Linked DNA regions of Homo sapiens. The protein of the gene in region 1 purifies or fractionates together with the protein of each later gene. This does not show direct contact. Each region holds a gene or a part of one and is shown on either strand. Other genes may lie near its edges.

The links.
Region 2: the proteins of EDEM3 (region 1) and FBLN7 purify together in Homo sapiens (co-immunoprecipitation; one large-scale study listed by IntAct). This does not show direct contact.
Region 3: the proteins of EDEM3 (region 1) and ANKRD22 purify together in Homo sapiens (co-immunoprecipitation; one large-scale study listed by IntAct). This does not show direct contact.

Annotation. Positions count from the first base shown.
Region 1 is NC_000001.11:184,744,768-184,748,417, forward strand, and holds part of EDEM3 (ER degradation-enhancing alpha-mannosidase-like protein 3 isoform 2 precursor), read right to left. Parts: intron 1-3,650. UniProt on the Homo sapiens protein: Involved in endoplasmic reticulum-associated degradation (ERAD). Accelerates the glycoprotein ERAD by proteasomes, by catalyzing mannose trimming from Man8GlcNAc2 to Man7GlcNAc2 in the N-glycans.
Region 2 is NC_000002.12:112,136,855-112,140,604, reverse strand, and holds the start of FBLN7 (fibulin-7 isoform 1 precursor), read right to left. Parts: upstream 2,221-3,750; 5' UTR 1,950-2,220; coding exon 1,875-1,949; intron 1-1,874. UniProt on the Homo sapiens protein: An adhesion molecule that interacts with extracellular matrix molecules in developing teeth and may play important roles in differentiation and maintenance of odontoblasts as well as in dentin formation.
Region 3 is NC_000010.11:88,831,204-88,834,853, forward strand, and holds part of ANKRD22 (ankyrin repeat domain-containing protein 22), read right to left. Parts: intron 824-3,650; coding exon 632-823; intron 1-631.

The DNA.
Region 1 (3,650 bases):
TAGCAAATCAACTAACACTACTGAGCAATAAATAGGAATTACAATATATCTCCAACAACATGGATAAATCTCAAAAGCATCATGCTAAATGAAAGAAAGTAAATCAAAAGACTATGTACTGTATGATGCCATATATATGAAATCCTAGGAAAGAGAAAGGTGTAGTGACAAAACACAAATCAAGGTTGCTAGGCGTCAGAGGTGGGGAGAAGGAATTTACTGCAAATAACTATGAGTTAAATTTTTGGGGTGATGAAAATGTTCTGTATCATGACTGTGATGGTGGTTAAACAACTGTATACAATTGTCAAAAAAGAATTGTGCACTCAATTTGAAATTTTATTGTCTGTAAATTATATCTAAAAAAGATGAATTAGCTGAACGATCTGGTTCTACTGAATTAAAATTCTATGTAGAGTATCAGAGTGTGATTACAAAATGTTTTGAGAGGATACTATAGAATTTCTTGTGTAATTTTGGTAGGGTTTTAGGATGTTCTGAAAGCAAAGGCCAAGGAACAATGACTCATAGATGATAGTCCCACAACAGTCTACACAAAAAAAGGTAAATATAAATTTATATCTCCCTTACTCCCATTAGTACCATGCCTAAAATACTTTGTTTACAGAATTACTGTTTCTGATGAATGAACCATTAAAGAGAAACACCGAGTACAGAGTTTCAGATTGGGAAGATGAAAAAATTTCTAGAGATGAATGCACAACAATATGAATGTACTTAATGCCACAAAACTGTAAACTTAAATGGTTAAAATGGTAAATTTCATATTATGTATATTTTACAACAATAAAAATTTTTTTTAAACATTGGGGGGTAGGGGAGAGGCACTCCAAAAAAATGTACATAAATCTAGAAATGCACAGGAAGTTCATTTTGAAAGAGTTCCTTTGGTTTGATTAATAAAGACTATTCTACTGTTGCTTTCACAAAATCAAGCTTAATAGTGGTTATTAGGTACGATTCTACTAAAGGAAATTGTGCTTACCAACTCTATCCAAGCTTATTTTTAATGTTTAGGGCTCTTACCAGAATATAGTTTTTGCTTGTAACAGTTTGAGTTGTCTAACACAGACAGGAAAAACACTGGGAGCTCCAAAAAGGTTCTACATTTGGATGGCCCAAATACATGTCATTTTGTCATCTAAATTAATCTGCAAACTAAACTGAACACAAATACTCAAAACATGCTAACAGAAGCCCTAAAGTGACTGTGGCCTGGGGTTAAATAAGGTCACACAAGAACTGCTAAGATAAACATCAAATTCATGTCATTTGGTAAACGAGAAAGCCATCTGTGCAATTCACTGTGGGTAAACTGCAGACTGACTGGGGCTAGACATTTGTCAAACATAGTCGTTATTAATAGTCATGCCAATAAGTGTTAAAAACCCAAAAATCCCTAGATTTAAGTCCAGAGATGGCAGAGTTGTAGTAATCTACCTAAAGCTGGCAGGACATTTCTATTAAGAAATAGCATTAATAGAACCTTCTATTACATTAATAGAAAGTAAGTTCAAAGGGCACATGCCAAGAACAGGAAAGAATGTATGCGCTTTAAGCAAGTTCTATGTACTATCTGGAGAACAAGTTCTGAGTTACAGGCTAAGTGGATTTTAGGAGGGCAATTTCAATTTAGGCAGGAAATAAATAATAATGATAGTAGTAGTCGTTATCAGTAGCAGCAGTAAATTCTTACATCATGCTTCCTATTTGCCAGATATTAGTTCTAAGCACTTTCATTATATTAACTTGCTTAATCCTTCTAACAACATTGTGAGGCTGGCAAACCATTGTCTTCATTTTGCAGAGATGAAGAAACAGGCTCAGGAAGACTAGGTAACTTTCCCATTGTAACCCAGATGAGAGGTGGCAGAGCCATCTCAGGGTGTCCTGCTCCAAGTCCAGAGTTCTTGCTCTTAATAATACTATATTGCTTGTCTTTGGAAAACACCACTGCTTTCCTGGGAAGCAAGAAGGTTAAAGGAATTGTTCTACTGTAGACCAGACTGGAGAGTAGTATTAGAAAGAACTAGTGAGAAATGAGGAAAAACTTTCAACATTTATTAAAAGCCTGCCATGTACCAGGCATTTTATATTTTAGGATAGTAGGCAACTGACTACAAAAAAGTAAATGACTTACAGGCCCTGAAATTCACCTTAAACTTGTATTTTTAATTAAGTTTATTATTTCTTTGCATTTAAACACAAAGATATATCACAATGATCAAATGCAAAAAAAAAAAAACATTATTTTACTTCATCTTCACAAGAATTCAATTCAGTTCTTTCAAAAAAATTTGCTAAGCATTTATGTACCAGGCACAAGACATATAAAAAAGGTGAATGTATTAAAAATTAAAGAAATTGGTTCCTGTTCTTTAAAAAAAAATCTATAGTCTACAATAACTCTTTGCAATTATTCTCATTTTACATAGAAAGACACTGCTCAGATGGGTTAAATAACCTGTTTAGGGTCCAACCTGTAAATAGCTGAGACAGGATTTGAACTCAAGCCCTTCTAACTCCAAAACCTATACACTTTTACCCTACAGAAAGCTAAAAGTGTTTCTGAGTGTAGGGACCGGAAAAAAATTTCCAACTGACTTCAAATAACAAATACAAGGCAACTGTATTCTCGTTAATATTTTAGAACTGTGTCATGTTAGTTGAGAACTTGAAAAGAGGAAGTGTAAATTCTAGACTAAATCTTGGGTTACAGACCTCACACAGATTGAATATAGAAGAAGTACACAGCAAGAGTCACTCACATTGTAAAATAGTTGAACATTTTAAAATACATATTACAGTGGACACGTATGGTCCCACTGGAAATATATAAGACAATGTTACTTTCAAGAGTTCCCAGTCTTTGAAGCTGAAATCCTTCTCTCTTAAATCTTATTAAGTAGTTAATTGTAGCAGAAAGTTACTCAGTTAGGTCCCAATAGGCACAGGCCAGAAAGTCCTCTGAAAGCTGCCCTCAGTACCTGCACTGTCACAAACCTACTAAGTGTATTCTATAGTTAGAAAAAATGTATTGATATAACTTTCTGCCATTGATATAACTGTTCTACCTAAAAAGAACAAGATATTAAAGATACCATGCTTTATAAAGAGATGATCCTATTCATTGTGAGAAACTGAACTTATCCAGCTATATGCTATTTTATTTAACTTTGGAACTGCATTCATCAGTACGCATTTATGAGATGGCTAAGGTCTGAGGGTATAGGATGGAACCACTTGGCCATCTCAAAATCATTAGCCTAGATTTGTTAAATTATGCTTTGCCCAAACTGAATTAACCAGGGATAAATGATTTTGAAAGAAATAAGGGTTGACATGTGGGTGACAAAAAAAAATTAATTAAAAAACAGAACGGGTGTAATGGCTCACACCTGTAATCCCAACACTTTGGGAGGCAGAGGTGGGCAGATCACTTGAAGTCAGAAGTTCGAGACCAGCCTGGCCAACATGGTGAAACCCCATCTCTACCAAAAATACAAAAATTAGCCAGGCATGGTGGCACACACCTGTAATCCCAGCTACTCAGGAGGCTGAGGCAGGAGAATCACTTGAACCTGGGAGGTGGTGGCTGCAGTGAGCTGAGATAGTGCCGCTATACTCCA
Region 2 (3,750 bases), on another chromosome or scaffold:
TTCCTCCCGGCGGTGCTCACGTGGAGTCCTCGCCCACAATGGACCGACGCTTTCGCAGCCCAGCCCGGGTCCTCCCAGGGGCCCGGCCAGCGATGCATCTGAGGTGACAGGTGGGGGACCCTGCACCTCTCTCTGAAAACTGAACCCCAGCCCAGGCATCGCTCCGAGCTCTCAACCCAGGCATCCGAGTGGAAAGTGGCAAGCCCGGGTCCCCCAGCCTTGGTGCTGCCTCCCCTGCGCGCGGGACAGGGGAGAGAGGAAGGAGGGATGCTGGCCTGGAGAGAGGCAGGAGGGACACTGACCTGGAGAGAGGCGGGAGGGACACTGACCTGGAGAGAGGCGGGAGGGACACTGGCGTGGAGAGAGGCGCGCGGGACAGGGGAGAGAGGCGGGAGGGACACTGGCCTGGAGAGAGGCGGGAGGGACGCTGGCCTGGAGAGAGGCGGGAGGGACACTGGCGTGGAGAGAGGCGGGAGGGACACTGGCGTGGAGAGAGGCGGGAGGGACGCTGGCGTGGAGAGAGGCGGGAGGGACGCTGGCGTGGAGAGAGGCGGGAGGGACGCTGGCCTGGAGAGAGGCGGGAGGGACGCTGACCTGGAGAGAGGCGGGAGGGACGCTGGCCTGGAGAGAGGCGGGAGGGACACTGGCGTGGAGAGAGGCGGGAGGGACACTGGCATGGAGAGAGGCGCGCGGGACAGGGGAGAGAGGCGGGAGGGACACTGGCCTGGAGAGAGGCGGGAGGGACACTGGCGTGGAGAGAGGCGGGAGGGACACTGGCCTGGAGAGAGGCGGGAGGGACACTGGCCTGGAGAGAGGCGGGAGGGACACTGGCGTGGAGAGAGGCGGGAGGGACACTGACCTGGAGAGAGGCGGGAGGGACACTGGCGTGGAGAGAGGCGGGAGGGACGCTGGCCTGGAGAGAGGCGGGAGGGACGCTGACCTGGAGAGAGGCGGGAGGGACGCTGGCCTGGAGAGAGGCGGGAGGGACACTAGCCTGGAGAGAGGCGGGAGGGACACTGGCGTGGAGAGAGGCGGGAGGGACGCTGGCCTGGAGAGAGGCGGGAGGGACGCTGACCTGGAGAGAGGCGGGAGGGACGCTGGCCTGGAGAGAGGCGGGAGGGACACTAGCCTGGAGAGAGGCGGGAGGGACACTGACCTGGAGAGAGGCGTGAGGGACACTGGCCTGGAGAGAGGCGGGAGGGACACTGGCCTGGAGAGAGGCGGGAGGGACACTGACCTGGAGAGAGGCGGGAGGGACACTGGCGTGGAGAGAGGCGGGAGGGACGCTGGCCTGGAGAGAGGCGGGAGGGACGCTGACCTGGAGAGAGGCGGGAGGGACGCTGGCCTGGAGAGAGGCGGGAGGGACACTGACCTGGAGAGAGGCGTGAAGGACACTGGCCTGGAGAGAGGCGGGAGGGACACTGGCCTGGAGAGAGGCGGGAGGGACACTGGCGTGGAGAGAGGCGGGAGGGACACTGGCTGGCCTGGAGAGAGGCGGGAGGGACACTGGCCTGGAGAGAGGCGGGAGGGACGCTGACCTGGAGAGAGGCGGGAGGGACGCTGGCCTGGAGAGAGGCGGGAGGGACGCTGACCTGGAGAGAGGCGGGAGGGACGCTGGCCTGGAGAGAGGCGGGAGGGACGCTGGCCTGGAGAGAGGCGGGAGGGACACTGGCGTGGAGAGAGGCGCGCGGGACAGGGGACAGAGGCGGGAGGGACACTGACCTGGAGAGAGGCGGGAGGGACAGGGGAGAGAGGCGGGAGGGACAGGGGAGAGAGGCGGGAGGGACGCTGGCCTGGAGAGAGGCGGGAGGGACACTGGCCTGGAGAGAGGCGGGAGGGACACTGGCCTGGAGAGAGGCGGGAGGGACACTGACCTGGGAAGCCCGCGGCTCGGGGCAGGCGAGGATCAGGAGCAGAAGGAAGAGCGCGCGCGGAGAGCTGGGCACCATCTTGCCAGTCGGAATCCCGCTGCCTGGGAGGGGAAATAACTTTGCCTCCGCTGCCGAGTTTGTCCCAGCGATGCGGCAGCCGTCCCTGCAGGGTGCGGGGCGCCGCGCGGCCGGGGGGCGGCTGGGGCAGGGGGGGAGGCGGGAGGCCCCGAGCGCAGCGCGTCCCGCGGGGATCGGCGCCGCCCGGGCCTTGCGAGGGTCCAGGTGCGCCCGCAGCTGCCCGCACGAGACAGTCCGCGCGAGGCGGGGAGGCGCCGGCCCCTGGGCTAAGGACGAGGGAGGAGGGGCTGCCCGGCCGGGAATGCGCCCGGGAGCGCGCCCAACCCGCGACGCCGAGGACGAGCGCGGGCATCCTCGGGGCCTGGCAGGGATGGGCGGCCAGTGCCCCGCATATGTGCGGGTGACTGGAAGCCCACCCTGGGCGGGTTCACTCCCGACCGTCCTATTTCCCAACCAAGTAGACTGAGGCTCAGTCACCAAGGACAAGTGGCAGAACAGAAACCCAAACCCAGGTCTGTCCTACTTCAAAGCCCACGCGACACCCTCCTCCCGACATTCCTAGAAGGGGGCCAGGAAATGGGCTTCATAAGCTTGACGTGGGGTGGACTGAGCTCTCCATCCGAATAAACTAGTGTCCCTTTAAATAATGCAATGGGGCCGTGAGAACACGCACGCACAGTGAGTAGATACACACACAGTGATACAGTGAGGGGATCTACGTCCTTCTGATTCACTGTCCTCCTTGCTCAAGGGAAGGAGAAACTCAGTTTAAATCGGAGGTCAGGTTCTAGAACATTGCCTGCCTTGCTGAAGTCGAATCAGGAAGTGCCAGGCCGGCATGAGCAGTCTGAAGTCCCCTGCCATCAGGGCTGTGGTACAACCAGATGCCTCAGACCTGAGCTCCCGGAAGGCATGACTGACGTTCTTCCTGGAAGGTTTTCTGAAGGCAGTCACTGCAGATGTCCTGGGACACACAAGTCTGGTCAAGCCCCAGATCTCTTTTTCCTCTTCCACATTTCACTTTGTTGAGCCCACTCAGAGCTCAGGGAACGGGGAGCCCACAAGACTGTGACCACAGAGCAGGAGCTGTTTCCCAGCAGAGGCCAGAAAGGAAAGCTGGAGTCCTGGCTTAGTCCCTTCAAACTGCTATAGCAAAATACCATAAACTGAGTGGCTTATAAACAATAGAACGTGTTTCTCACAGTTCTGGAGACTGGGAGGTCCAAGATCAAGGTGTCAATAGATTAGGTGTTTGGCGAGGGCCAGAGTTCTGGTTCCCGTGTCCTCACAGGGGAAAGGCAGCTCTCTGGGGCCTCTTTTCTGAGGGCACTAATCCCAATTTTGAGGGCTCTGCACTCATGACCTAGTCACCTCCCAAAGGTCCCACCTCCTAATGCCATCATCTTGGGAATGAGGTTTCCAACATATAAATTTAGGGGAGACACCAACATTCAGAACCTAGCCAGTGCCCCAAAAAGCAGGGGACATGGTTTAGGCTGGCCTCCTGGGCATTGGTTGCCCAGGAAATCCTACAGTGCTGCTCCCCCAACCTTCCCATGCAAAGGAGGTGGAACGGGACCCATGTAAATCTTTTTTTTCTTTGAGACGGCGTCTTGCTCTGTTGCCTAGGCTGGAGTGCAGTGGCCTGATCTCAGCTCACTGCAGCCTTGCCTCCCTGGTTCAAGTAATTCTCCTGCCTCAGCCTCCCAAGCAGCTGGGGCTACAGGCATGCACCACCACGCCTAGCTAATTTTTGTATTTTTAGTAGAGACAGGTTTTCACCATGTTGGCCAGGCTTGTC
Region 3 (3,650 bases), on another chromosome or scaffold:
AAAGGGCTCCACAAGGATTTTCACAGCAATACACACATATTCTTCTCTTTCTTGGTCCTGAAGGCTCCAAAGTAGCTAATATTGCATCTTTAAATATATTCTTTACACCTTTTTGTGTGACTTCAAGTAACCTCTGGCTCATGAGCTTATTTGTCCTTGGTAAATTTCTCAATAGTACTCTTTCATTCTACAAGAACACTATAGGATCCTCTGGAGATCAGGACATTAATATAGCAGGTAAAAATCTAACTAATGAAACAGCATTTCTTTTCCAAGAAATCTTTGCCATTGCTTCTGTGTTAGTAATGAGAAAGAGGGGAGAGGAAGAAAGAGGAGGATGAAGAGAGGAAGAAGGAAAAGAAAGAAGCTCTATCCAGCCAAATAAGTGAACCAGAGGTAAAAAGACATAATTTATCACAAATTATGCCTGCTGATTGAACTATGTTTTATTTTGCTGTTTAGCCTAATAAAATGTCCTTGGTATGTGTCAGTCTTTCTAAAGTAGGCTAAGATAATTGTTCGTATTAGGAGCTGCAAGCAATTTAAAAAATGACATGCACCACTTCTAGTGATTCAAAGAGAAAAGAATTATCATGAACAATTACACTCTCCATTCATGTCATGACCTCACCTGGTTTTTGAGGTTGACATTAGCATTTCTTCTTAAAAGGAAGGAAACGATTCTCACATGCCCTCGCCTGCAAGCACAGATCAGGGGCGTGTCTCCATTAAAGCCATCTTGAACGTTGGCATAGCTGCTGTCTTCTTTCACCCACCGCCACACTTGTCCAAAGTCATTCTGATAGGCTGCTTGGCAGATGGGCTGGGTCGGGAAAAACAAAAGCAGGTTTTGAAATACTGGCATAATTAAACCACAAAAACGAAAAAAAAGTCATAACCCAATACATTAAAATTTAAATGTTTTAAAATTGTAATATATTGCTTTGCAGGTGAGATTTTTTGGTCTCAGTTATGCCTAGCTTTAAGTCTAGATCAAGAATTAGCCCATGAGGAACCTCCTACATTTTCCTAAGTTTTCTTGGCACACACTTATGTCCATCAAATGGATGAATAAATAAATGAAATACTACAAATTCAACTCAGTAAGGAAACTATGTATAGTGCTTACAGGTAGGTGGGCCTGTCGGAAAAGCATTCATTTTCTTTACTAAAGATAAAATACCTTTATCTTTATCTTTACTAAAGACAAAATACCTTTATCTTTATCTTTACTAAAGACAAAATACCTTTATCTTTATCTTTACTAAAGATAAAATATCTTTATCTTTAGTAAAGACAAAATGTCTTTATCTTTATCTTTACTAAAGATAAAATGTCTTTATCTTTATCTTTACTAAAGATAAAATAGAAAACAAGCATATGGGGAGGAGTTTAGGGCAGTACTAGTGATGAAATAAGACCTACATAGCACCCTGTATTCAAGGAGCTCAACAGAGCAGAAAAGACAGTTTTTTAGGCAAATAATATACAAATTATATGGTTAACTACACTTGATTAGATGCTGTTTATAAAAAGCATTATACAGAGCTTCACAAGGCACCATGGGAGTTTAATAGCAAGACTTCAGGTAGCATGATCTTGTCCTCTTTCCCTCCTCTGCTCCAGCCTTTCTCGACTTCTGTTCTTCAAAGTTTGGTTGAACCAAACCATGTTTGGTACCTTCCATCTGGGCTTCTGCCCTGAATACTCTCTCTGCATAAAACACACCACCTGCCTTTCTTCTGAATAACACCTAGCTCACCCTTCATGTCATAATTTAATTTTCATTTTATCCAAGAAGTCTTTTCTTACTCCCAACATTCAGTATCTCTCCCTCACAGCAACTGACATACTGTAATTCTTTTCTTAATTATGTACAATCATGTATTTAGGGCTAGCATGAATCAGGAGAGGTTTGAGGCAGTGCTGAGAAGGAAGGCACTGAAGTTCAGGCCGTAAACCCCATTTTATTTACTGCTATTTCTCCAGCATTCAACACAGCACTCAGCACATGGGAGGCAAACACTGAATATTTTTAGACTAATCTTCAGATGATGTCTTTTAAAAAGCATTTAGAGTAATACCTGGCATATGGATGGTGCTTAGTGTATGAAAGTTATCATTATTGCAATTGTCATTCTTTAATAATCAAGTCAAATCCCTGCTGTGTGCCAGTCACAGGTACCAGAGAATAAAATATGTTATCTTATCCATGTAAAATGTATCTGTCAAGTGGGGAAATAGGACAGAGACACACATACACAGAGTAAATGACAAGAAAAAAATTTTTTGGTATGGGTAGGTACATAAGCACCTGTGGAAACTGGGACGTATCAAGGGGAAAGTCAAGTGGGTGTATTTGCTAATAAACTGAGGTTCTAACATAGCCAAATATCACAATAAGTGAACTATGTTATACTCTTAAACCTAAAGGCCTACTCATGAAAGAAACATCCTAACAGAAAATTAACTCAGCAGCAATTAAAGGCAAACTTCTGTACCTTAAAAATGAAATGAACATGATACATGGGCTTTAAGTTTCACTAGAAATGCACAATTTCACAAATCACCTATTCTGTTATCCTGAAGTCTTCCCTTTACTAAGCTTTCCAACAGTTGGGCACTTCAGTGTCTCAGCATACTGTGTGGCTGATGCAGAAAGGACTGGGGCAGTTGAAACACTTGTCTCATGTCAGAAAAACAGGATGTAATTGTGGCTCTGTTACTACCTCCCCCGGTGACTGTGGACAATTCACTTCCCTACTGTATCTCAGTGTCCTCAGTCATTAAATGAAGGAGTAAGGCAGAAGTTCCCTTGGGTTTTCATATTCGATTATTTCTGGGACTCTAGTCTCAACCAACAAATCTTCCACATCACTGCTGGAGTCCAGGGTTATGTCAACACAATAGTGCTTAAATAAAACCTTCAGTGACTTGCCATTGTCCTAGCAGCAATGCCCAGTCATTTGGAGTTCAAAAATAAGTAAAACAAAACTAAATGCAACAAGACAGTGTTAAGTCACCAACTCTTAATTTTTCAATTAAATGTATTTAAAACAATACTATTATTTCATAAAAGATATTTTAACAAATACAAAGATAAATGAAGGGTATTTTAACAAAATATGTAAGAATATAATCACCAGGGGGAAAGCAGTTCTTTATATTGGGTAGATTTAGTTAGCTTTATAGAAAAATTCATTTTATTGTCCTTTTAAAAGATTTTACCATAAACTAGTGAAAATTTAATAATGGAGTGATTAGCAGTGAGCACTACTCATCAAGCATTTGGAAATTGGTGGTCTACCATGAATAGCTTGGAAACAAGTGGCTTTAGAGCTCTTTTTCTCTTTTCTCAAATATTTAAATAACTTAACAACATTTAAAAAACTAGAATATTTCATGTATTAATCTGGCTTTCCAGCTTCTCTTTAAAAATGGAAAGTTTTGGCTGGGCGCGATGGCTTACGCCTGTAATCCTAGCACTTTGGGAGGCCGAGGTGGGTGGATCACCTGAGGTCAGGAGTTCGAGATCAGCCTGGCCAACATGGAGAAACCCCATCCCTATTAAAAATACAAAAATAAAAAAATTAGCAGGGCATGGTGTCTGGTGCCTATAATCCCAGCTACTCTGGAGGCTGAGACAGGAG